Linked DNA regions of Homo sapiens. The gene in region 1 interacts genetically with each later gene. Each region holds a gene or a part of one and is shown on either strand. Other genes may lie near its edges.

The links.
Region 2: changes in PKN2 (region 1) and EGFR together harm fitness more than expected from each alone (negative genetic interaction), as found in Homo sapiens cells (2 studies listed by BioGRID).

Annotation. Positions count from the first base shown.
Region 1 is NC_000001.11:88,823,746-88,836,761, forward strand, and holds the end of PKN2 (serine/threonine-protein kinase N2), read left to right. Parts: intron 1-564; coding exon 565-641; intron 642-4,735; coding exon 4,736-4,878; intron 4,879-8,998; coding exon 8,999-9,106; intron 9,107-9,331; coding exon 9,332-9,412; intron 9,413-9,499; coding exon 9,500-9,703; 3' UTR 9,704-12,510; downstream 12,511-13,016. UniProt on the Homo sapiens protein: PKC-related serine/threonine-protein kinase and Rho/Rac effector protein that participates in specific signal transduction responses in the cell.
Region 2 is NC_000007.14:55,022,017-55,035,032, reverse strand, and holds part of EGFR (epidermal growth factor receptor isoform a precursor), read right to left. Parts: intron 1-13,016. UniProt on the Homo sapiens protein: Receptor tyrosine kinase binding ligands of the EGF family and activating several signaling cascades to convert extracellular cues into appropriate cellular responses.

The DNA.
Region 1 (13,016 bases):
TACGCCTGTAATTCCAGCACTTTGGAAGGCTGAGGCCAGCGGATCACGAGGTCAGAAGTTCAAGACCAGCCTGGCCAAAATAGTGAAACCGCCTCTCTAATAAAAATACAAAAGTTAGCCGGGTGTAGTGGCACGCGACTGTAGTCCCAGCTACTCGGGAGGCTGAGGCAGGAGAATCGCTTGTACCCGGGAGGCAGAGGTTGCAGTGAGCTGAGACCACGCCATTGCACTCCAGCCTGGGTGACAAAGTGAGACTCTGTCTCAAAAAAAAAAAAAAAAAGGATTAAATTAGATTATCACAAATAACAAATTAAATACATTTTTCCTTTTTTATGTAACAGGAGAAGAATTTCTCATGAGCTACCTTATATAGAGTAATAAACTTACCAAAAGGAAGAAAACTGAATGTTTGTGTTATAGTATTTAAATCTCAAATCATAACTTGGAAATCCCATTTTTAATAAAGAGAAAACACAGTTCCAATTGCAATTATTTTTTTAACTGTATAACCTACTGATTTCTTTGATTTTTTTTTTTCATGCTGTATCTTTTTATCCTGAACAGAGATTTGAAATTGGATAACTTATTGCTAGATACAGAGGGCTTTGTGAAAATTGCTGATTTTGGTCTTTGCAAAGAAGGTAATCGAATGTTTTTAAGTTTCTTTTCTGATTCAGAATTACTGTTTCTTTGTGCATCAGTAGTTTTCAAGTTTGTCTATGGAAAACAAACTGTACTTTTAACTTTATTCTTCATTAAGACATTGTAGATACAATGAAAACATTGCTTATATAACCTAATTATCACATTAAGAATTTGTTCTCTGAATACAAATAAGGTTAGATGTATAGAAATCATAGTAAGCTTCTCTGTGTGATTAATAATTTTGTCACTACTTTAAGGAAGTATTGATTAAGCACCAAAATCGTTTATTCTGGTGAGACTGTACACAGTGAATTTCATAGGCCTGATAATTTCCTTCCAGCTTCTTAAAGTTGAAACATTTAAAAATAGAAAATAAATAGAGATAGGTATCTCATGTATGTTTTTTGTATATTCAAAAGTAAATAAGTAAATTGGGGAAATTTGAATCAGAGGTAACATAAGAAAGGATAAAGATCATGGGCTTAGGCACTAAACAGTTCTAGGTTTGAATCGTGGCTTTGCCACTATTTGCTGTTTGTCTTTGGAAAACTTAGTTTTAACCTCTTTGAGTCTTATTTCCCCAATTATAAAAAAATGGACATAGTTCTTTCTGTTTACTAGTTACTAACATTCTCTATCTCCCTCTGCACTGGTGGCTTCTGTTTGCTATTTAGCTTTGTTTCCATAGTGCATAACACAGTGCATGGTACATCTTAAGTATTCAGTAAGTGTTTGATTAATAAGTAGTTGGATGAATAAATGAATGAACTCTGTAGATATATGCCCATCACATACCCACTGACCTAATTGCTGAATCAAGTAAGTTTTTTCTTGACTGGGCTTCTTTTTATTGGACACTGTTCCTCTAAATGCTTTTGTTTCTCAGCATCTCTCCTTAGCCGGCTGCTCTTCACTGCAATTTTTTGACTAGCAGCTATATCCTAATGACTCCCAAATCTATTATTTCCTTTCCTATGGATTCCAAAGATATATATTCAACTGTCTACTAGACAGCTCTGCCTGAATAGTGAAGAGACACCTCAAACACTACCCAAACAAAAATCATTTATTTTCCGCCGGTAGTCTGGGTGTTGGTATCACAATCCCCTCAGCCTTCAATCTGAAAGTAAGGAATTATCTTGCGTTCTATCCTGTTCTCTACTTCCCGTATGTAGTTATTCACAAAATTCTACTGCCACTTAACCTCCTGAATATTTCTGAAATCTATCATTTCCAGTCAGCTCCTTTCACCCATTATCTTGTTTTGACAAGACAGGTATAATAATCTCCTAATTGTTCCTATTTCTAGTCTTTTTCTATCCCAAATCAACCTGCCATGTAATTGCTGAATTGCTTAAGGAGTCCATATAAATACAGATCGGACCATGGCACATACCTGCTGAAAACTCTTCAGTGGCTAGGATAAGGTGACATACAGTGCCGTTACTGATCTGCCTGCCTTCCTCTCTGGCCACATCTCTTGCTGCTCTCTGTTTAGTACTTTTTGCTGCAGCAACAATGAACTGCTTATAGTCTGTGTCCCTCTAGCACTGTCACCCATCCCAACTCTATTTGCTGACTAACATCTGCTCATCCTTGTCATTCAACTCAAGTGTAACCTCTACAGGCAAGTTACCAGAGATTCCCTTTTACTACCCCAACTCCCAAGTCTGCTTTAGGAGCCCTTCTTCACTATTCTACCTTATCTTGCTCTTCCCTTGTTGTTATAAAATTATCAATAAATATCCATTTCCCTCCAGTCTCCTGTAAGCCCCTTAAAGACTGTGTCTTACTCTCGTTTTTATGTTCCCGCTACTTGACACAGGTGCCTAGAACATAAAAGGTGCAGAAAATATGTGTGTTGAATAACCAGACTTATTAATGCATTATCATAAAAACATGTTTAGTAGATTATATAGCTAACAACTTTTGAGTGCTTACCGTGTGCCAAGAATTTTGCTTCATATGCATATCTCCTGTAATTTATAACAATCGTATGAAGGTAGATAGTTTTTTTGGAGGAAATATTTTATTTTTTATTTTATTTTTATTTATATAAATTTATAGGGTAGAAGTGCAATTTTGTTACATGCATAAATTGCATAGTGGTGAAATCAAGGCTTTTAGGATATTCGTCACCCAAATAACATACATTGTACCTATTAAGTAATTTCTCATCATCCACCCCCCTTCCACCTCCTCACCCTTCTGAGTCTTCCTTGTCTTATCATTCCACACTGGTAGATGGTATTATTAACTCTCATATACAGATGAAGAAACCTAGAATTTGATGTTAGACAACTTTCCCAACCTCCCACAGTTAACAAATGACAGAACTGGAACTTAAACCAGGTATTTATTAATCTAGAGCCTGATATTAACCACTTCCATGGAGTTTTACCAGTCTACAAGAAACATAAGTTATATTTCTTCATTAATTAACTTTTTCCTAGTTTTCTCCAAGTTACTAAAAGGCTGGTGCAGAACTTACATAGATATTAATACTATATCACTGTTTTTTTAAATAATATTTTATTGAAGAAAATAAAAATCATTATGATAGTGTTAAAGAAATTTTGCCAAAAAAAAATTTCTCCACTCCAGTGTGCTAATGTATCTAATTGTGCCCTTCAGGTCTTGGTTCATAGACACACATTCATTTCTATTTTATAGTCACTATATATGCATACCTAATTATTCTTAATTTAGGATTGAGAGCTTTTCTTTAAAATTCTTAAAAAGATGACACTTATGACAAGTTTTTAACACTTTGGAATACATAGAGATAATATCTTCAATATGTAGACTATATATTTGATTAACATATTAATAAATTATGAGGAACATATATTTAAAAACTAGTTAGCCAAAATGTTAATACAGGCTGAGTATCCCTTATCCAAAATGCTTAGAATGAGAAATGTTTTGAATTTCAGATTTATTTGGATTTTGGAATATTTGCATATATAAATAATGACATATCTTGAGGCCAAGACCCAAGTCTAAACACAAAATTTATATATGTTTCATATATACCTTATACATAGCCTGAAGGTAAATTTATATAATATTTTTAATAATTTTGTGCATGAAACTAATCTTAAGTACTTGCGGAATTCTCTATGGCATCATGTTGGTGCCCAAAAAGTTTCAGATTTTGAAGCATTTTAGATTTTGGATTTTTGGATTAGGGATGTTCAACCTGTACTCTCCCTTCCCTCCCCTTCCCTTCCCTTCCCTTCCCTTCCCTCCCCTCTTCTCCCCTCCCCTCCCGTCCCCTCCTCTCTCTCTCTCTATATATAATATATATTGAGATATATATATGTTTTTTGTTTGTTTGTTTTTTGAGACAGAGTTTTGCTCTTGTCACCCAGGCTGGAGTGCAATGACACAATCTCAGCTCACTGCAGCCTCCGTCTCCCAAGTTCAAGCAGTTCTCCTGCCTCAACCTCCCGAGTAGCTGAGATTACAGGCGGGAGCCACCATGCCCGGCTAATTTTTGTTTTTGTTTTTTTTGTAGAGACGGGTTTCATCATGTTGGCCAGGCTGGTCTTGAACTCCTGACCTCAGGTGATCCACCCGCCTCGGCCTCCCAAAGTGCCGTGATTACAAGCATGAGCCACTGCACACGGCCCTATCTCTCTGTATTATATGACACATTTGGTCAGCTTCTGATTATCCAAGGGTTTGCTTTTTGGTATTTTTGAAACTTATTTTTTTTAGAATGTTGATTTTATAATGAAGTAAATAAACTTATTTAAGATTGAATTGGAAAGATAATGGAACTTCACAATCAGTTCATTTTGTTATAATTTCTTAGCTCCCTTGTAATGACAAGAAGAAAAAGTAACTGAAAAGAAACATGGATATCTTATTTCTATTTACCCATTAATTAGACAGTATAGTTGCTATTGCAGTTTTTGCTATACCAGTCCTTACTGTTTTCTTGAAATGTCTTAGATATGTCTGAATTTGTTCACCATGCACAAATGTGCAACTTTAATTTTGCCTCCCAAAGATAGCTTTGATTTTTTTTTTATGCTAGATTTGTTTTCTTTGCTAACAAATGTTTACATTTTATCTTTTCCAGGAATGGGATATGGAGATAGAACAAGCACATTTTGTGGCACTCCTGAATTTCTTGCCCCAGAAGTATTAACAGAAACTTCTTATACAAGGGCTGTAGATTGGTGGGGCCTTGGCGTGCTTATATATGAAATGCTTGTTGGTGAGGTAAGCAGTGTGAAATAGGTAAGAGAACAGAGGAAGGATGATTGAAATAATAAAGCATGTCATTTATAAAACCACCTAATACTGTCTTCAGTATGAGTGGAATTTAAGTTTTATAAATATTTATAGTATACTAGTAGTCAGCTATCTTTCTGTAATACCTTCAATAAAGATTTTTATGTGGTTTGTGGAATGCACTATCAGTGCTTTGAAAATAGTTCCTTGTATTTCAGTATTGTACTTTTATTATGTTTTCTGATTTTAAGACATAGTCATTTTATAGGGAATGGAATAACAGAAAGACTAATAAAAGGAATGTACTCTGTACCTGTAAAGAAAAGCCCACTATAGATTGGTCAGAAATAAATGTTACCTTCGACTTCCTCCAGACTTCCGTCTGAGCAACACACTCTGCATCCTTGCTTCACCGGGAAACTACTGAAGTTCCTGGGGAAGCAAAGTAGAATTTCGTAAGAACAAAATGGATGGAGAGAGGAGAAAACCTATGGTAGCTGTGAAGGCCCTGATGCCATGTATGTCAAATTGATATCATCCGATGGCCATGAATTTATTGTAAAAACAGAACGTACATTAACATCAGCACGATAAAAGCCATGTTGAGTGGCCCAGGTCAATTTGCTGAGAATGAAACCAATGAGGTCAATTTGAGAGAGATACCTTCACATGTGCTATCAAAAGTATTCGCTACACCAACAGCTCCACCGAGATTCCTGAATTCCCAGTTGCACCTGAAGTTGCTATAGAACTGCTGATGGCTGTGAACTTCCTAGATTGTTAAATAAAATATAATTTTAAAAAAATGAAAGAAGTGTTACCTTAAAAAATGGTAGAGTTGAAAAAATTCGCATTTTTTCCTACTGTTTTCTGTAGATTAACTTAAATTTCTGAGGATAATTGAGTTGTACATAGAAATTATTACTATTAGGAAACAGTGAGTTATGTTAAGGCAATAATAGGAGACTAATAATTTATTATGTTATAAATTGTTAGAAATGTTGAATTGGGATGAAATTGGGAAAGAGTAAATCTTTTAATAAGTAATTGAAGATTACTTGAAGGGACTTGAACTGGAGATGCAAGAAAAATTATTTTAAGGGATTGGTTCATTATTCTGCAGTTTCCCCATGCCAGCAACCTCCCTTGTACACTTGTAAGTTTGAAGAAGTTAGTGCTGAATGAACAAATTATCAAATTGAATATCAGAAATTTCTAAAGTTTTGTTCTATGCTTGTCATTTATTGGCACTTACCCCAAACAAATGGTTTTAGTTTCGCCGGATGGATAACCCCTTTTGGTATGTCAATTTGAAGTGGATTCCTTGGAAAAGGAGGAGAAGTATGGCTAATTAAAATTTATCATGTGCTAAGCACTGTACTGTATGCCTTAAATATTAGTTCATTTAATTTTGCAACAGCCTTTAATAAGCTCAGTACTGATCTTCTGCCCATTTTCGGAGGTGTAAATAGAGACACAAAGAGATTAATGACTTGCTTAAAGTCACACAGCTCTCATATGGTGGAGCTGGAATTTTAACCTTGTCACTCTGGCTCCAGAGCATATCTAAAGCATTATGCTTTGCTGCTCCAGGACAGGATCTTCAATTCATCCAGCCTTGTTTCTGTTCTTAAGACTAGTGGTCCAGATCTGAATTTTTCACCTCTATTTAGAAAAGCTGTTGTGCAGTGTTTAGGTTGGAAAGATTTATTTTAGCTCCAGTCCACAGTGGCTTTTACTTTCTGAGAGTGCCAGAAGTTCTCATAAAATAGTTAATCTGCTGTAAGCTCTGGCATACTTGAACTCCTCCCCACCCCCTTCCTTTATTTTAACAGTAACATTTTGGAGGGTTTTTTTGGTTTTGTTTCATGTAGTATTCAAGTAAGTATGAGATTTATGAGATTCAATTATGTGCTTGCTTAAAATTTACTCTCCATATTAGAGATGACATGTGCAAAATATGAGTTTATTACAAAATACTGTAGAATTAATCCAGTTGAATCTACTCCCTCCTATTATAAAGCCACTGGAGGGTTTGGCAGAAAACAAGGAAGCTCCTGTTTCATGTTTTTTAAAAGAGCTAATTGATTGAGCTCTTAATTACCTAGAAGATAAAAGACAGTGGATCTGGCTATTTCTTCACAGTTGTTTCTTGCAATTTCTCTTTAGTATCTCCACAAGAGGGTAGCTGGGAAAAGAACTAAACTTAAAACTCATCAGTCTACTTCATAATTTTATAGCATTAGTGAAATGCTAGTGATAACTCCTTTTTAACTATGATGAAAGTAAGGTGTGGCTAAAGTTTATGTCAGATTTCTCTATTATTACAAATAATTGTAAACTCACCGGATATATTATACATGTTCAGATTTGTATACTTCTACTAGTTTTGATTACTGGAAAGACTCCAGGAATAAACAAACATCGCAAGTCCCCTTTTTCCTGTCTCAGATGGGAGTGAAGATACCAGAGAGATTGAACAGAATGCTGGACATGGTTTTAGATACTGTCAGTGTTGACATCTGAACAGACTATTGGTTTCCTTTAAATGTGCTGAAAACACATTTGTTAGCTTTCAGTTGTTAGCCCTGTTTGCTTACAATCTATTTGCAGAAAAAAGATACTACATATTTTAACAAATGTATAGATATTTCTTTGCTGTTCAGACTTGTAGAATGAGTTTTCAAGTAAAAATTGTTCAAGCAGAAGACCAAAGTGCTGTCTTTGTATTATCCATTGAAATTCCCATTGAGAATCCTAGTAAAATAAAATTTTCTTCTGACTTACTGTTTCAGTCCCCAGAAGAAATTAGATTGTCCATGTAGTACATTTGATTTATGTATTTTGAGTGTACTACATTGTCCCACGTAGTATATTTTATTTATGTATTTTGAGTGAGTGAATGAACAAACTAAGGTTTTGGTAACTGTAAGCTTTGAAATTTTCTTAGCTGTGAGCAAGATTAGAAGCTCAGCCTTAAGAAGTTGGATTCTGAATTTATTTTCACAGATTCTTAAAGATTGCTCACTTTCCCTGGATATTGCTTTCTGCTTATTATTCTTTAAAACTTAATTGGAAGCAAGCAGCCAAATCAAATCTAACGAGGCTAAGTAAGCCTATATTTCTTCAATAGCCAGTGAGAAAATAAGGTTCAAGATACTAATTCATTTCAGTGATTTTAAGGAATTAAATGATATTTAGACATTTGTTTCCTGATTTAAAAAATGACTGAGTGATTTTTAAGCCATCTGAAATTCTGAGGCAGGCAGTCACATTTGATAGACACGTTTTTAGCATAGTTGAAAGTTTCTCTCTTTGTGAATCAAATTGTCATACTGAATATAATGTAACTACTTTTTTATGTCTCAGGGTCATTATGAAAAATGATTTTAATACTGAGCTTATGGAAATGCCCTAAAACTTTTTGTGTTTAGAACATTAAAAATGCCTGGCAATGTGTGCTTTTTGGGTTCCTTTCAGTCTAATTTTGTTGGCAGCTGCTTCTTAATACAGTCATTATGCTTGCTAATCCATGATTGTGTTTTACCACCATTAATTTACTGTTGACTTTAAAATCCAAAGCACATTTATATCTGATGTATTTCCGCAGATTGCCTTCCTTTATTATAACATTTATTACCATATTAACCTTATCCATTTTCTTCTGTTTTTCCACAAGATTGAGGTTCTTCAGGATTTATCTATTATCTAAATATTCCCTACTGTCTGTTAGACACTAAAAATTGACTGTCTGGCCAAATAGGTGATTGAGTGAATGAAATAAAATGGAATGGAGTGGAATGAAATTAAATGAAAAGTCATATCATATATGAGATAGACAAGTTTTTTATAAGGGTCTATAAAATTTAAAGATTTCAGAAAGAGTATATGGTGTATTCCCTCTGTAATAGATACATATCTGTTGTCACTTCTTATAGTTCTTTTGTTGTTGTTTTGGTAGGCATGGGTTTATTGTTGTTGTTGTTGTTGTTGTTGTTTTGTCTGTTTTTTCTTTTTCACTGCCTGGATCTTGGTTGTACTTTGAATGGGTGATAAGATTTTACTGCCTTAAAACTTGCTTTAACTTACTCAAAGGTATTTCTTCTAGTCTCCCTTTCCTGGTGATGATGAAGAGGAAGTTTTTGACAGTATTGTAAATGATGAAGTAAGGTATCCAAGGTTCTTATCTACAGAAGCCATTTCTATAATGAGAAGGGTAAGAATTAAAATAAGGATAAGAATTTTTTAAAGACTACTTTAATTTTTTATACTAAAGAAAATTTCCCAGTAGAACTTTAAAAGCTGTTTTTCAGTTCATAAATGTTGCATGGCTTAGACAAAAAAAGACAAAATATATCTAAGTTTTTTAAAGTAATAATCCTTATCAGTGAATTTTATTCTATTGGTTTTATTTTAACTTTTTTATTTTACATTATGCTAGCTGTTAAGAAGAAATCCTGAACGGCGCCTTGGGGCTAGCGAGAAAGATGCAGAGGATGTAAAAAAGCACCCATTTTTCCGGGTAAGTGTGACTATTTAAAATTTTTTATGAAACTAGAGCGATTAGATTTAACAAACTAAACTAGTCATTTTTTATTTTATGATCCAGCTAATTGATTGGAGCGCTCTGATGGACAAAAAAGTAAAGCCACCATTTATACCTACCATAAGAGGACGAGAAGATGTTAGTAATTTTGATGATGAATTTACCTCAGAAGCACCTATTCTGACTCCACCTCGAGAACCAAGGATACTTTCGGAAGAGGAGCAGGAAATGTTCAGAGATTTTGACTACATTGCTGATTGGTGTTAAGTTGCTAGACACTGCGAAACCAAGCTGACTCACAAGAAGACCTCTTAAAAATAGCAACCCTTCATTTGCTCTCTGTGCCACCAATAGCTTCTGAGTTTTTTGTTGTTGTTGTTTTTATTGAAACACGTGAAGATTTGTTTAAAAGTACCATTCTAATACTTCTTCAAAAGTGGCTCCTCATTGTACTTCAGCGTAAATATGAGCACTGGAAACAGTTTCATGGAGTTTAAGTTGAGTGAACATCGGCCATGAAAATCCATCACGAATACTTTTGGATCAATAGTCTATTTTTAAAAAGAAAGAAAAAAACCACTTTTTTATAGTCCCTAGCTTTGCCATATGCCCGCCTTAAGTGGAAGGAAAGTTAATCACTTAACTATGTTTTATAAAAAGAAAAAAGGGCTTGGAATGCTATTACTGTTCACACAAAGTATGATTCTGTTTGAATAAGGCAAATGCTCCTTTTTTTAAAAAAAAAGACATTACTGTAATATCAAAAACCGTGGCAGTTTGTATACAACTCGGGGCTTGATTTTTTTTAAAAAAACAGAATGAATTGATGTCTTATTTTATAAATGTTCTATATTTATTAGGAGAAAACTTTATATTGCCTTTTTTATCAATCATGTAACAGGCTTATAGCTTTCCAACAGAGCTGCTTGCCAAACAATTTTTTTTGTTTATTAAACAGTGCTGAAACAAACAGGATCAGCATTTACTTAAGATGTTAAGAATGAGGACTTTTAATCAGCCGAACCAAGATATTGTTACCTGTATGCATTCCCAAAGTCTAGATGCTCAGTATGTTCAGTCATATCTTTCAGAATCAGTGAACCGATTACCCTTTTTTTGGTATTCACTCTACATCTGCCAACCTAGTTCACCTTGGTTTTGTGTCTGCTGTAGAAGGGAACCATAACTTGGTTAAACCGTAGGGATTATCATTGTATACATGCTGTGAACATGTATATGTGCAAGTTTTAATGTATTCTATGTTGTAGGCTTATTATTTAATTTTACCACTTCATCACTTTTGTACAGTGGCCAAGCAGACACCTCAAACTCCAGCATTTACATTAAGTGCATTTGTACATTTTAGGCCACTGGATCCAGATTTTATATTGGCAGTTATTGAGGGCAAAAGCAATATATTGTAACAGAATGTATAAATATTTTTGATAAAACAGTCTATATTTTATTAAAAAATGAATTATAACACTAAAGCTGTACCTCAAAAGTCTCAAAAATAATTTGATGAAATATTTTATACAACTCTTCAAAGGATCCGTCTGTGGCTTTTTATACTCTTTTAGGGTTGTCTTTTTACAAACCATGACTTTCCACTTGCCTGTAGTTTTTTGTTTGTTTTGGTTTGGTTTGATTTTATATTTTTTTCTCCTAATCTATGACTTTATTGTTTTTTCTTAGTTTAGTAATAGCATCTTTGATCCTGTGCTTAGCATGTTAGGGTCATTATACCTCAGGAATAGCAAGCTGTTAAGTAACCATACTGAATTAACTATTTAATTACAGTGAGCTCATCTCTTAAAAATTGTTCAGGTGTAAATCTTATGAGAAACATGAAAAAGCACACTGATTTATGGAGAGTTGAGCTAAAAACATTTATAAATATTTGCTGGGATGTTTTAGCATCTTTTCATTGTACTCTGAGAACAATTAAAATTGTCCAGAGATCATTTATATTACCTTCCAAATTGTTTATTACCCAAGATCCTTTGGGAGAAAATCTTATAGAATGGGGGAACAATATGTGGTTTAAAGTTATTTTAAAATGCCAGTTAATTTCCTCGGCAAAGGACAATAGAGGAACTTAGCTTAATTGTCTGGCTTTAATTTAAACTGTGTTAATACAACATTAAAATAAAACACTAAATACTTTTGAGGTACAGTCTGCTCACTTTTTTGGTTCTCAAATAGCAAAGAAAGTAATGTCTAAAATAGGCTCTTAGCATTAAAAACTGACAGCATTTCGTAACTACACAGTGTACAGAATTTTTTTTTAATTGAAGTCAATCACTAAAAAAATTAGAAGGCAGGGTCTATTTACACAATTAAGCTGAAGAAAGCACTAATTTTTTGTAGTTTAAAATATATATATATTTTAGTCAGATTTAAAATTTTAAGCTTTATAGAGTGTAAATATATTTTGCTATTACTGTATGTGTATGTGACTGCTCAAGCACTTTGTAAAGAAATTAGGATATTTTAGAATGGTACACTATGCATTCAAATGAAATGTGCCTTTCACTATGTCATTCTAAGAAAACAAGTGTTTTTTGCAGTCATAAATTATCACAAATGCACAAATTAAAGTCTATATAGATTGAAATTTGTAACTTTGGTTTTAAGTATTCTTTCCTTTTAGAAACTTCCTAATGATTAAAATATACTTTAACTTTTCTGTGTTCAAAATCTCAAAGACTAATTAACTTTAATAAACATTCTTGCAAGTACTTTTTGTCCTAGTGAAGGCTTAAAACCATGAACATTCAGAGCAAACTGTCCACTTCATTGGGAATAATGGGAAAAGTTTGTATTCTGCTCCTGTAAGGTCAGTAGCATCTTTTATTTGAAGCATATTTATGGACTGCTTACTGTGTATAGATACTGAGAATAGGAAGTTTTTTTTTTTAAAGCAACAAAATGTTGATGAATGAAGAACAGCCTGTTTTAATTAAGATGCAAGCACCAGTATTGTATGTACTTTTCTCTTGTTTGAGGTTAGCTTATTTTAATTTAGGACCTGGCTTCTCAAAAAGGCAAATGAATAAAACAGAATACTAGTATTTTATAGTAATCTTACTTAAAAATTACAAATGGAATATTTTAGAAATATAAAATGATCCATGCTCTCCCTGTAACACAAATTGAGGACATAATGGAAATTGCAATCATATATTGACTTGGTAAATCTGCTGTACAGATTCAAGTCTAACAAGATTTTTGCAAGTACTGCCAGTATTCCCAAAGCCACTGAAGGAGTAAGTATGAAAAATCCAAAGAAGCAAATACTAATCCACAGATCATAACCTTAATTTAAATTTAGAATTCTTATTTACCTTCCAGCCATCTTTTGAGGTCTAGGGTTTTTCTGAGATACTGGCTTTATACATTAGTATGATGGGTAGAGGCTTTAAAGTTATTAAAAATAATATGTATACATATACATATAAAATTAGTGGAAGACCGTCAATAAGATACGTAATTTGAGGTATTGATGATCTCAATAAAGGTAAGAGTGGTCTCTGGCAACCCTTCACCCCAAAACAAGCAAACAAACTTGAGCAGAGTC
Region 2 (13,016 bases), on another chromosome or scaffold:
CTCAAGTGTGTCACATGCCACTACTGTGCTGTACAACCTCTAGGATCTCATGGAAGGTAAACACAGGACAAAGGTTAGACCACCCTTCATCCCACTTGCAAATCAAATATCTATTAAATCCTCTCACTGTTTAAAGCAACTATGCCACTAGTGATGTCCATAAGATAAATTATTAACTTTGAACCGTTAGCTTTTCCATGTTTGGTGTTTCTTGCAGCAAAGCAATTTATTTTTACTCACAGATTTAAAACAACTTTAAAAATAACTTTTATATGCTGCTAGTAGGAAACAGCAAGTCTCCAGCATGCATTAATTTATGATCAGTCTATTAACTTGCAACTTAGAGAACAATGATAAGTAATCAGATAAAGAGGAAGGACAGATGGTTGGCGCATTTTTTACAGTTCCATATAACACGCGCAGGCCTTATTACACACTAGGTGAAGAGACAGGAATTTCTGAGGATGGACCTCAGAAGACAGTCACAGTCCTTGGGTGTGGGTGTGTACTGGCTCAACACCAGTCATCAGTGAATCAAGCAATTCCTGCAGTAGCTCAGTTAATTCCAGATCAAATAATAATGGGCACCTGGCCAACATGGTGAAACCCTGTCTCTACAAAACATACAAAAATTAGTCAGGTGTGGTGGCGGGCACCTGTAGTCCCAGCTACTCAGGGGGCTGAGACAGGAGAATCACTTGAACCCGGAAGGTGGAGGTTGCAGTGAGCCGAGGTCGGGCCACTGCACTCCAGCCTGGGGAAAAAAGTGAGACTCTGTCTCAATACAAAACAAAACAAACAAACAAAACAAAAACAATAATGCAGAGGGGGAATACAAATCCATTCTTTTCTCACTTGAGGAAGCCAAAACATTGCCGAAAGGGCCAAGTGCTCCAGGCAGGGTGTGTTTGCCTCCCTCCTCACAAGATGGTCCAGGCACCTGGGGAACCATGAAGATCTACAGCTGGACCCTTGGAAAGTGTGCATGGCCATCATTGCCATGTCTGCTTTAGTGATGATGGGGGAGAAAGCAGAGCAAGAGAAAAAAAACAAGAAATGGGCCAGTCACAGTCGTCATAGTAAAAGTCCTAAGGTAAAAAGAGCACAGGAAGAAATCATCAGGGTTTCTGAAGTGAAATGAAGAGGGTTATCAAAACTGGCCCAGGACTATGCAGGAAACAAAAAAGCAACACTCTTGAGGGAAAGTGAGACCCACCAGGGAAGCAAAGTGAGGGTTGGTGGGATGTCACCTGAGAGTCCCGCCATGGAGGCAAGGGATGGTCACCAAAGAGGAGAGCCAAGTGGAGCCTTTCTCCTGTCTGGCTCTTGGCGACTTCCCAGGGTCCAGACCACGGGAAGGACGTCTGGGGCAAAGTCATGTAGCCATGGAGAACACAGGCTCTCTGGTGAGAGCCCAGGCCCGCCTCCCCTAGTTGGAAGGCTGTCGTGCACACATGGGGCACGCTCCAGCCTCTACACCACCCTGTCACTGAATCCCCTCTGCGACCCTATGAAATAAGCACCAGGCCTACCCTCATTCTGCAGATGAGGAAACTGACACCCACAGGCATTGCTCAGCATGGCCAGCATCCCCTGCAGTCCCCAGGGGGCCCTGAGTTCAAGGCCAGGGCATATGGCAGAGTCTGCCCTGTGCACATCACGTCACCTCCCTGTGCTTCACAGGGAGCAAGAGGCTAACAAGTCACTTTAATGAAAACAAAACAAAACAAAAAACACCACAAGGCAGGTCTTAAGATTTTTTCGGTACATTTGCTTTGTATATTCATATGTTAGTCCCATGTCCACATTTTGCTTTTTCTACTTACAGAGAATTTACCCTCAAAATAGAGAGTAAATAGAAAGTTGCTGCTTTTTCTAGAATAAAATAGTCATCTATTGAATGTTAATGATTAGTTCTAGAATCACACTGACCTATCTCATTCTTTAGCCTGCTATAAAAATTTTCAGATTGAGAAAATCATTCATAGACATGACAATTTTGGACATACTGAGAACCAGTGGAAGTTTTCAAGCATTGTTGAAGACTTTGCTTTAAGAGCATTGTGATTCTAAGGGCTTTGAACACTTGGCACTGGTGGCTTATTTTGACTTCCAGCGTGGTGAGTCCCCTTTACCCTGCAAAGGTAGTAAATTCCTGGCTGAAAAAGTGCCCTGAGTATCCCTTTTCCCTCTCTGAGTCAAGAAACTCCTGAACATTTTCTCCATTTTTAATAAATGACATATATATTCTATCTTATGGCCAGAAAAAAATACAAAGGGACACTGATTTGTTAGGAGAATCAACTCTATGCCATCCAGGATGCATATATGATTGAAAAATGAGCAGAAATATCTGCTGCAAAATAGTAATAACAGAAAGCATGAGACAGTCAGAGAACCAGGCAAAGATGGAATCATCAACTTAACCAGCCAGCAAAGCTAGCTGTCCCTGATCTGGGAGTCAGATGTGTCAAACTGTGAACACGTCCGGGTCATCTGCGTCCTCATTCAGTTCCCCAGGATGCCAGGCCGCTGCCTGCCACACATGCAAAGGCTCAGGAAAAGTGTGTGCTGGTGCCGTTCTACATAGAGAGTGAAAATTCACGGGAGCAAACTCTTTTTGAAATAAATTGCATCTTCAGATATCATTTTTTCCCTTAAGGCCCATTTAGCCTCCACCATGCTGTGCTAAGCTGCGTCCTCAGACAGAGATGGGCTGAATGATTTAATCATCCTCTGTCTGCCTCTAAGGATGATACCACTGAATTGGTATGTTTGATGTCTACATTTCAAAATCACTGGGTATTAATTAGTTATCATCTGTTACTTTTGAGACTTCTCTTAAACTTAACTGGGCCTTTTATGGCTTGGCAGAACATCTTGTGAATGGGACATAGGGCGATTGTGAGATCAGTACTACTGTTAATAACATTACGTGGTACCTAGAGGTTCTCTCAACTAAAAATCAACCTTGAAAACAGTGTTCAGAAGTCACCAAGCCTGCAAAACTTCTACTAGGTGACCAATGTGCAGTCAACATGCCTGTGCTCACAACAGCCCCTCTCACCTGTGACCACCACCTCATGCTACCTCTTCCCTTGTCACCTAGTGAAAGAAGACAAGTGTGGGAGGAAAAAGAGTGCCCAATGTCTTCTCAATATTAAGTCAGAGGAATGCTAATATTTTCCTTTTCCAAAATGCGAATAAAAACAAAAAACCCCGAAGAATATAATATTGGCAACTCTCTTTGCCTTAGCACCCAATTCTCATCGGCTCCATCAGCAGAATTTAGGCCTTGAGTTCGTGACTACTTATCTCCCTGGCTATAGTTTGAATGTCTTGTTTTTGCAACTGAGCAACATTATGAACATTTAGTAGCCATTGCCCAAAGAATCTAAAAGCCTAGAATTCCTAGCCAAGACTTCAAGAACTCTGTCATGTGATAAGGAAAGATGGACTCAGATAATCACCCAAGTCTTCTGCCCTTCTGGGACTTTTCTCATTCAACTCTCTCCCTGACACCAGGCACGTCACTACTCTGCATCTAAACAAGAATCTCTAAAGGTGGAAAGTGAAGTGAAAAAGTAGGCAACTCACCTGATTCTTCATGTTGTCCCACTTCATCAAATTGCTGAACTTTCTGTTCTGCCTTGGCCAGGTAGATTTTTGTTGACTGAAGGTAAAATAATGATGCTTTTGCCCAAGTAACCTTTGCAAGACTTACAGGTTCAGTGGCTAAAGCCACCCTGAAATCAATATACTAACTGTCTGTTTACTGGAAGGGTTTACTTATTCAACAAGAGATACGTCATCACAGGCCTGAAAAATCGATGTGTTCTCCTGGCAATCCTCTCTAAACCTGCAGCACCTAGATAACAACTGGAGATCCATTGCTCAGCTGGAGTGCAGGACTTTTTCCTTTGCTACTTTATAATCATGAAATAGAAAATTGCTTTTGGGAAATTTCTGCCAGAGTACTGAAAAGTTTCCACTATGTTAGGAATAAACAATAACAAAACAGTTTCTTCCTTTCTTGTGGAGGAAAATGAACACTGCATTTTGAAATTTCTTCTGGGAGAGGCACATCACCGTCACTGAGAGATCTACTCACTGCCGCACTCTCCATTCCATTCCTTCAACCCAGAAAGTGCCTCCAAGTGAATAATTTGATGTGTGAAACCATCTCTTCTTAAAAGCCAATGCTTGCAAGTAAATCCCAGCCAGAATAGCTTATTACAAATGGTATGATATGGAAAATGAACACTCTTGGAGGGCCACACTGTTTCTTAAGTTTGTCTCTTTTTGTAAAAGCTGTTTCACACCCTAAAGAGGTTAAGTGTATGCCTTCATTTAAATCATAGAAATGAGTCTTACAAATCTATGTAAGGGAATTACTACAGCTTGCCATAGGCATTGCTAACTGACCCAACTGCTAAATCAAGTTGCCTTCTCCTTTCATTTTTTTTCTGCAAGTATTTATAGGTCTGGAAAATTTACAGAAGTTGATGACACAACGTTGAAAAGTCATACTTCTCATTTCTAAAGTAAATATTTTCAAGGCTCACAAATTCACTGCCCTGTATCTTATGGAATGGGCAGTTATAACACATACAGAAGAGACTTGAGTCTAAAAACTACTTCATAACAAAAAAGAAACCTGGGAAAGGAACCAAAACAGAGCAGAAATACACAGAAATATACAGAAATTGTGAGGGACATTAAGCATTAGTAACAGAAGTATAACAAATTTTGAGGAATACTTTATTTAGCCTTTGATTCACAAATAGAACTAAAAGTGATGGGGCATCCATAGCTAAAAAACCCAATGACGTCTTGAAGGAGGAATAAGTAACCTTGACCTGCATGTTGAGAGACAGTGCTGTGTAGCAGGAGAGCACCCAGTGCCCACTGATCACCAGCCTGGTGATTACGGACAACAGCAGAATCGCTCTGAGCCTGGGTCCCTCACCTCCCAATCTGGAAAGCTATCCCAATCCTGTGGGGTTGTAGGAGGCTGAGAGAGAAGAATGTTAAGGCATTGTGTAAACTATGAGGTGCTGTACAAATGCGAGGTGTTGTTATTATTATGACATCAATGTTTTAGCATCTAAATTATAGGGACAGCACACTTATTACCAGCATGTTTAAATACATATCTTGCATACATTTAGATTTGTTTTTAATTTTACAGATGTTTTCAGCTGGAAGGAGTCTGACGATCGTCTAGTTTAGCTGTTTTATGGAAGGTGAAACTGAGAGGGGAGACTCTAACCTGTTTTCTCTCCCCATTATAACTAACAACAAATTACAGAAAAAAATATGTTAAGCCGCGTACTAAGAAAAACTCCCTTAACAACACCACTTTTCAGGGAGCAATACATGTGTATGCATACTTGTATAACCATGAATACTGAGTGTGTTTGGTACTTTCTAACTTTTGAAAATTATATAGTATATTTTTACAGTCATTTGACAAAGTTTTTCATCTGCAGTCCTTTGCAAAGTTTCATTTCCAGTTATTTATAAAAATTTTTCTTTCTCTGTGAAGGCTAATTCATAACAGCTTGTAAAAAAGAAGGAGCGAGGAAGAGAAAGAAGGAAGGGAAGAAGAAAGAAAGCAAGGAAGGAAGAAGAAAGGGGAGTAAGAAAGAAAACAGGGCAATACACTATTCTCACTCATAAATGTCACCAGAAATTAAAAAAATCAAGAAACATCTATAAGGATAAGGTTTCTGATTCTCTATTAACATTGTAGCAAATTGAAGCCAAGAAAAAGTTCTATAGTGCACTCTATTTAAAAGCCTCTCAAAATTAGTACATTAAAAAACAACAGGTGACACAATAATTCTCCAATGACCACTTTTTTTTTGTTTTTTGACTGAGTCTTGCTCTGTCGCCTAGGCTGGAGTGTAGTGGTGTGATCTCAGCTCACTGCAACCCCTGCCTTCCAGGTTTAAGTGATTCTCCTGCCTCAGCCTCCTGAGTAGCTGGGACTACAGGCACGTGCCACCGCACCCAGCTGTTTTTTTTGTATTTTTAGTAGAGGCGGGTTTCACCATGTTGGTCAGGCAAGTCTCAAACTCCTGACCTTGTGATCCGCCCGCCTCGGCCTCTGAAAGTGCTGAGATTACAGGCATGAGCCACTGAGCCCAGCCAACCATCTTTTGTTTATCTGTCATATGTTTGGACTTAATCAAAAGTGGATGACATCTGACATTGGGGTTCCAGGGTTTTTGTTACCTATAAACAGATAATTGCTTAACTTTCTAATAATATATTAAAATATACTTTATTTTAAAAATCTAGTTGGAGCCATTAGATCTTGCAAGTTAGCACTAGAACAAACTTAAAATAGTTTGTCTAGTTTATCTTGTTCGGCACAATTTGAAGCATTTACAATGGCTTACAGTGTATGAGAATGAACTAGGAGATAATTTTGTAAGTGAATAGAAACCATTGTAATAAAATCTCCTGAAAGCTTTCAGGTATTCAATGATTGCTGGTAAATAAACAAAACCAGGTTTTTGAAATTAAAAAAATGTTTTTGAAAAAGTTTCTAAAATTTGGTATACAATGATCAGAAAATCTCAGGACACCTTTGCCTGTCCTTAAGGACCTGCACAAATTCACTAAGTGGTTTGTTTTTATTCCAGCACTAAAATAATGGATAATTTGAGTATCAGCAGAGACACTAAAACATGCACAGTTTTTCACATACAAATGCCAGTTTGTCTTATCAGAGAGACTATGTGCAATGCATCAATTTTATCCAAAACCTGGAGTAAAGGAAAGAAATTTTAGCAAAGGGTTGTAATGACATCATAAGTAAAACGATAGGACTGCTAAAACAATCATGACGTCATCTGCTGTGCACTGGCCTGCAAGCATGTAGTGGTAAAATCGTCAGATATCACATTTCTGCTTATAAAATAAAATCCTTCATGAATGCTCTTAAAACAACTGCAAAGCAAGCAGTGGTCTTTACCTCCATATGTGTGTGTGTGTGTATATATATATATATATATATATATATATATATATTTTTTTTTTTTTTTTTACATAAAGGCATGAATATACAAGGTAATGTCAGCAGCTGTACTCCACTCTTTATTTGTTGCAAATCTACCTATTTGTTTCCAAAGGATGTCTGCAAATAAATAGGTAACATTGTACAGCTTTCAACAGTGGATCAGAACATAGATGTCTCTTCTAATTCACAAGTACCAATGGCTCAATTAATTTAAGGGACATTTTCTGAGTTGTGTGATTTCACATGTATTTATCGTGTCTAGAACTGTGCAAACTTTTGTTTCATTTCTCTCTTAGATTTCTGTAGGAAGAGTTAAAGGATGTGAAGTAGTCATTTTACTTATTCATAACACATTTTAGGGAAAATTGTGCTGTTGCTGTTGGGGAGAAAGTTAAAGCTATCAACTATAACCTGGACTCCAGTCCAATTTTTCACATCTGGTTGCTACTTTTAAAAAGGATCATTTTAATTTTTAAATGCAGAATGTGTTGCACTTTATCTTTGACATTCCAGGTTTCCTCATGGTCATTTAGAAAAATAAAGCAGGAAATTCTAATGCCTTAGCATCTACTTTAATAAGATGTTTGCATTTATAAAAATAACAAGAAACTGAGGGTTTTGCTGAAGGAGCACAGGGCCTACAAGTATTTCCTCATTCCTGTCCCTGTGCCTGGAGGCCCAGCTAAGCATTCTGTTTCTGAGAAACTCCCCTTGTCACAGAGGCTGAATTAGTCAGTCCCTCTTTTGGGCTCCCACTGAAATCCCAAATCACATCTGTTATAAAACATTGCATTACAGGGAGTGATCTTGTATGTGTCTCTCTTTCTCAGCCCTTCCAAAAGGTAAGTCGGTCCTCAGAGGACAAGTGCAGTTATTTTGTTCCCTTGGTGTATCTAGATCCCAGCATGCGATGTGCCTGGAGTATATCAGCAGTTCTCAAAATCTGGCATGCATCAGTCAGAATCTCCCTGAGGACTTGTGTGCACAGACCGGGGCCTGCCCTTCCAGTGTCTTACTCAGAGGCCAGGGTGGGGTCCAAGAGTGTGCATCTCCAACAGGTTCTCAGGTGCTGCTGCCATGCTGGGCCCGCTGAAAGCCACTGCAGAAAGCTTTTTTTTTTCCCTTTTTTTTTTTGGCAGTTAAAGAGAGGTTTTCTTTAGTTAAAACCTGGGAGGCACTCCTGGTGAATTTTGGTCAAGAGCGCTTTCTCTTACAGACTAGGAGTATATATTGGTTTTAGGGTGAGGGAGATTATCAGAATTTTGGAATGTTCCTGTTTGAGGGAGAAGTTTTATGGCAGGGTTGGAATATCTCTGGGAGGAGGCAAGTTTATCTTGGGGCAGGCATCTTTCCGGCCAGAGAGAGGTTATCCCGAGACTGGCATCTTCCCTGCTGGAGGGGGGTTATCTCGGGACTAGCATGTCTCTGGTCGAGGAGGAGTTTCGAATGTTTCCGGTTGGAGATGTTATTTGTGGTTTATGGTCATGCTGACCTTAGCCATTAGGCTGATGCAGTTTGAATTTAGGCAGTTTTTTATTAAGGTGAACTTTAGAATGAGGGGCTTGTCCAAGATGGCGATGCTCCTGCTCTGTCGAGCCAGACCCTATAGTTATAAAAAGGAGGAGGGGTGGAGTGTTCTTTCTGGCTATTTCCTCACTGCAGGAAACTTTTAATGGACTAACTTGTGAAATAAAATGTGACTCTGGAACTGATTTACTAATGAAATATGCAACTGTTTCTGGATCTCGAAGGAGCTCATGAGATGAGTAAGAAATGGGGGTCTGAGAGCAAAGACAAGATTTCTTTCGTTACGAGCTACATACAACATGTAATCCACTCCTCAGAATTGCCAAGGGAGCTTTAAGAAATGTGTGTGTGCCAGGCTCCATTCCCCAGAAATACTGATTGTCCTGGTCTGGGGCACAGTAAGGCACCCTCTTTTTCAAAAGCCCCTCAGCTGGTTAGAAAGCATGGTCAAGGTTCAAAAGCTACTGCTTTAAGAAAAAAGAAAAAAAATCATCTCCTACTTTTTTTGGTTCAGCCACTAGCGTACAAAACCAAGTAATGTGATGTGGTCTTAAGCAGGGAACAAGAGATCCCCATTCCGAGTATTTGCAGCAATATATAAACATGACTTCTGGTACACTTATATGCACAATATATTATATTACCAGTTGCTGATAACTGCAACTAATCAGCTGCTGACTATAGCAGCCTCACCTAGAGAGAAGCTGGTATCCAGAACCCCTGGTGTGGCTCAATTTCGATGCTGACGGTGAGCATGAGACAGGTGGAGCCAGGAAACTGTGAGAGGAGAACTTGTTCTGTGATCTAAGACAAGTAACTGACACGGAAATATGTGAGCAAATGACAACTCAAGCCACATTGCTCTCCTGTGCTCTGGACCACCGTATTCTACTGCCTCCTGGACTTCTCCATCTGAGCACTTCAAGCTCAACACATCTAAAAGCTGAATATTGATATTGGACCCTCCTGCCCTTCCTCTTCTCCTCCCTTCCCTTCCCTTCCCTGCAGTCCCATTGACTTCCCAGCCTTTGTGATTGCATTCAGTATCTATCCAGGCTTCCAAGTGAGAAGCCTGGGTGTCAATCTGGGATTCTTTCTTTCTTATGCTGCTACATATACTTATCAACCAGTTCTGCCTCCTGATCAGCCCCGGAGTCCCCTGTCCTGAATCTTCCTTGCTCCTGCTTCATCCTCTGTCTCTGGCAATAGTCATGAACCTTCCTGTTTCCAATGCCACTCCTGCAGTCCATTCCCCAAACCGCTGCTGCAGCCATCTTTCTAAAACACCAAACACAGCATGTCAGTTCACAGTCACTTCTCTTTCACACAGGACAAAATCCAAAGCCACAGTGAGGATGGAGCTCTCTGTGAACTGTAGGTAGCCTTACCATTTATTCCTTCTCTTCCTGCCATTTGAATTACTAGCACTCTCAAGAACTTTGCTGCTATTGGCACTGCTTGTGTAATGCCCTGCACATCCTATTCTCTGGGGAAATAATCATATAACCAAATAGCTCAAATGAGTAATCCCTTCCATTTGTGGCTAAACGTGCTCTCCTCCCCATGTAGAATTAAAGGCAAAGACTGAACTCAAAAGTCATCCTTTGTCCTGGGAAGAGTTCCGTCATTGATTCTGTGACATTGTTTCACACTTATTATCTCTAGCTCTCTTTCCCCAGTTGACTTCCAGACACTTAAGGGCAATTACCAAGTCTAATTTATTCTTACATCTCAACATATGGATGCAACAGTGTAAATCACTCATCATGGCTCAAACATAAAGAAAAAAAAGCCTAAGTTGTAACAGGTACCAATACTTGCCCTTCTATGCAAAGGGCAAACAATCATGGTTGACTTACGTAATTATTTAAACTAAGTCAGGGCCATGTGTGCTGCCGCGCTAGTAATGGTGTAATTGCAGGTGTACTTAGGGCTGCCTGCAAGGCATTCTCATTGGGTGCCTTGTCCCCTAAATTATAACTTGAGTCTTTTGTTAATGAGAAGTTCCAGATATATTCAGAAAGGACACTTGGACTCCGAGTCTCTCCTTGAAAACCCACCAGAATGAGATAAAACTTGGATCAGAGAGAGAAATTCTACTCCCCCATGTTAGTGTTTCCATACTGCTTGCTAAAGCAAGCTGCTGAAACTGGTAGGAGTAAAATTTACTCTAAGCATATGCAATTCACAGATGCTCAGTCCACAGGACCAGTCATTTGATACTGAACTTCAGGGCCTTCAGGGATTGAAATGTCAAATCTAGCACTTACTTTCTAGGGGCTCAGTAAACACACCCCCAATATTCCTGGCCCCAACTACCCCTCCTGCTCCCAGCTGGCTCAGGGAACTTTCTAGACAACTGGATTGAGTGTATCTATCTAAATGTGTAGCAAGAAAGCTTTATCAGATGACTCTGAAAAAGTGAAAATTACAGGCAAACTAGTTATTTGAATAAGTTCCAATGCCTGGATTCTTGCCCAAATTCAAACTGGCCAGCTTGTGCCTATGGGCCCAATGGAGGACAATCTAGAGATGTCGTCCAAAGAGCCAACTGCTGGAATTTTCTTAGAAAATTCATTCCTGTAGGAGGAAAACGAAAAAGAACGAATGAGAAAACACTATGATGTTTAATGGGGATGGCCTACAGGAACAAGTTAAGATTTACACTCTATTCTCTATGGATTAGTGGTTCAAGAATAAACCAGTAATAATTAACTGAGACTAACAATGTTTATTACCATAATTTCAAATGTCCATAAGTGATAAAGGAAAACAAAAATGGAATGGATCTGAGGAACAGAATCTGTTTTTTTTTTTTTTTTTTTGAGATGGAGTCTCACACTGTCGCGCGGGCTGGAGTGCAATGGTGCGATCTTGGCTCACTGCAACCTCTGCCTCCTGGGTTCAAGCAATTCTCCTGCCTCAGCCTCCTGAGTAGCTGGGATTACAGGCACCTGCCACCACGCCCAGCTAATTTTTTTTGTATTTTTAGTAGAGACTGGGTTTCACCGTGTTGGTCAGCCTGGTCTCAAACTCCTGGCTTCATGATTCGCCTGCCTCGGCCTCCCAACGTTTTGGGATTATAGAGGTGAGCCACCATGCCCGGCCCAGAATCTGGTTTTAAAAATTATATTTACAGGGAAGCAACATGTGGGTGAACCATATTCTAAAACTTTGAAATTTTCTCAACACATACCCCTATTAGTAAAACCCAATGTTAAATAAGCTCATAACTAGAGTACTTATGAAGTCAAAATTAAAACACGCACACACAGACACACAGGCACACACACAAGTCACATGGCAAGGGCCACACTGTGTTGCAGGTGGGTTCTGCAACAGGCGAAATGTCCTCAACATTGTGACCCATCCCTATTCCGGGGCACCAGCCTGGGGTTACCTTCCCTTCAGTGCCCATAATCATCAATTGCCTTTAATATTAGAGTTGGTTTGTCACTCTCGTCAAAAAAGTTTCAGATGCTAGCTGCTAGTCTTAGAGCTTAGATCAAAGAAAAAACAAAGAATATTTTCTTTTCAAACAGGGAGGAATCCTTCATCTTTGCTGAGACTACTTCTAAAAACATTTCAGAACATGTTAGTGCTGTCACGTGGACCAAGTGTAATTATGCAGCACAATGGACTTTCGGCAATCGGTGTCTTCAAACCAGAAGTTTTTGAAAAATCATGAGTTATGAAACTAAATACGTGAAGCCAGAAATTACTGTTAAAAGCCTATTGGAGCTCTCAGCCAGTTTCTTGTATTCTGTGCTACGGCAGTGTGGGTCTAACACACAAACCACTGGTGTCCTTTCCAGATTTGAAAGCAATCTGGAAGCAAGAGCAGAAACCCTTAAAACTCACCCCCCCTTCAACCTTTAGCCCAGAATATCTAGCATATTCTATGCACTCAGTAAATATTCACTGAATTCAGAAACAACAGCTCAGAAGCCTGAAGGGTCAAAGTGACTTGTCCACCTTCACCCTGGGCTGGAGTGAGAAGAAAGGTCCCAATTGCCAGGCCGGGCTTGGGCTTTCTTGATCTGACCTCCTTTGAGGAGGGAGGGTGGGGTAGATCTCACTTTGGATACCATTAATATCCCCACTTTGGTTTCTCTTTAAGACAGCTCGGACCTACTGAATGGGAACGTCTCCAGAAGTGGGGCTGGGCGGGCTTATTTCCACAAAGCTCCCTCAGTTGGGAATTCGACTCGCCTTGGAATACTTTCCAGTGTCCCTTCTGGAGAGCACCTTCATCCTGTAAGAGGCAGGGCTTTGCTCAGCACCCCTCAAGCAGTCTCCACTCCATGCTCACTGAACTGAGGACTAAGCTGCCTCTATGGAAGGTGACCCAACAGAGGGCTGAGGAACTCGGCAGGAATGCAGACTGCCGGACAGCCCGCGTTGAAGCTTCAGACAGGCTCATCGTCATGAGCCGGCTCCCTGGGCCCTTTCCCCTTGC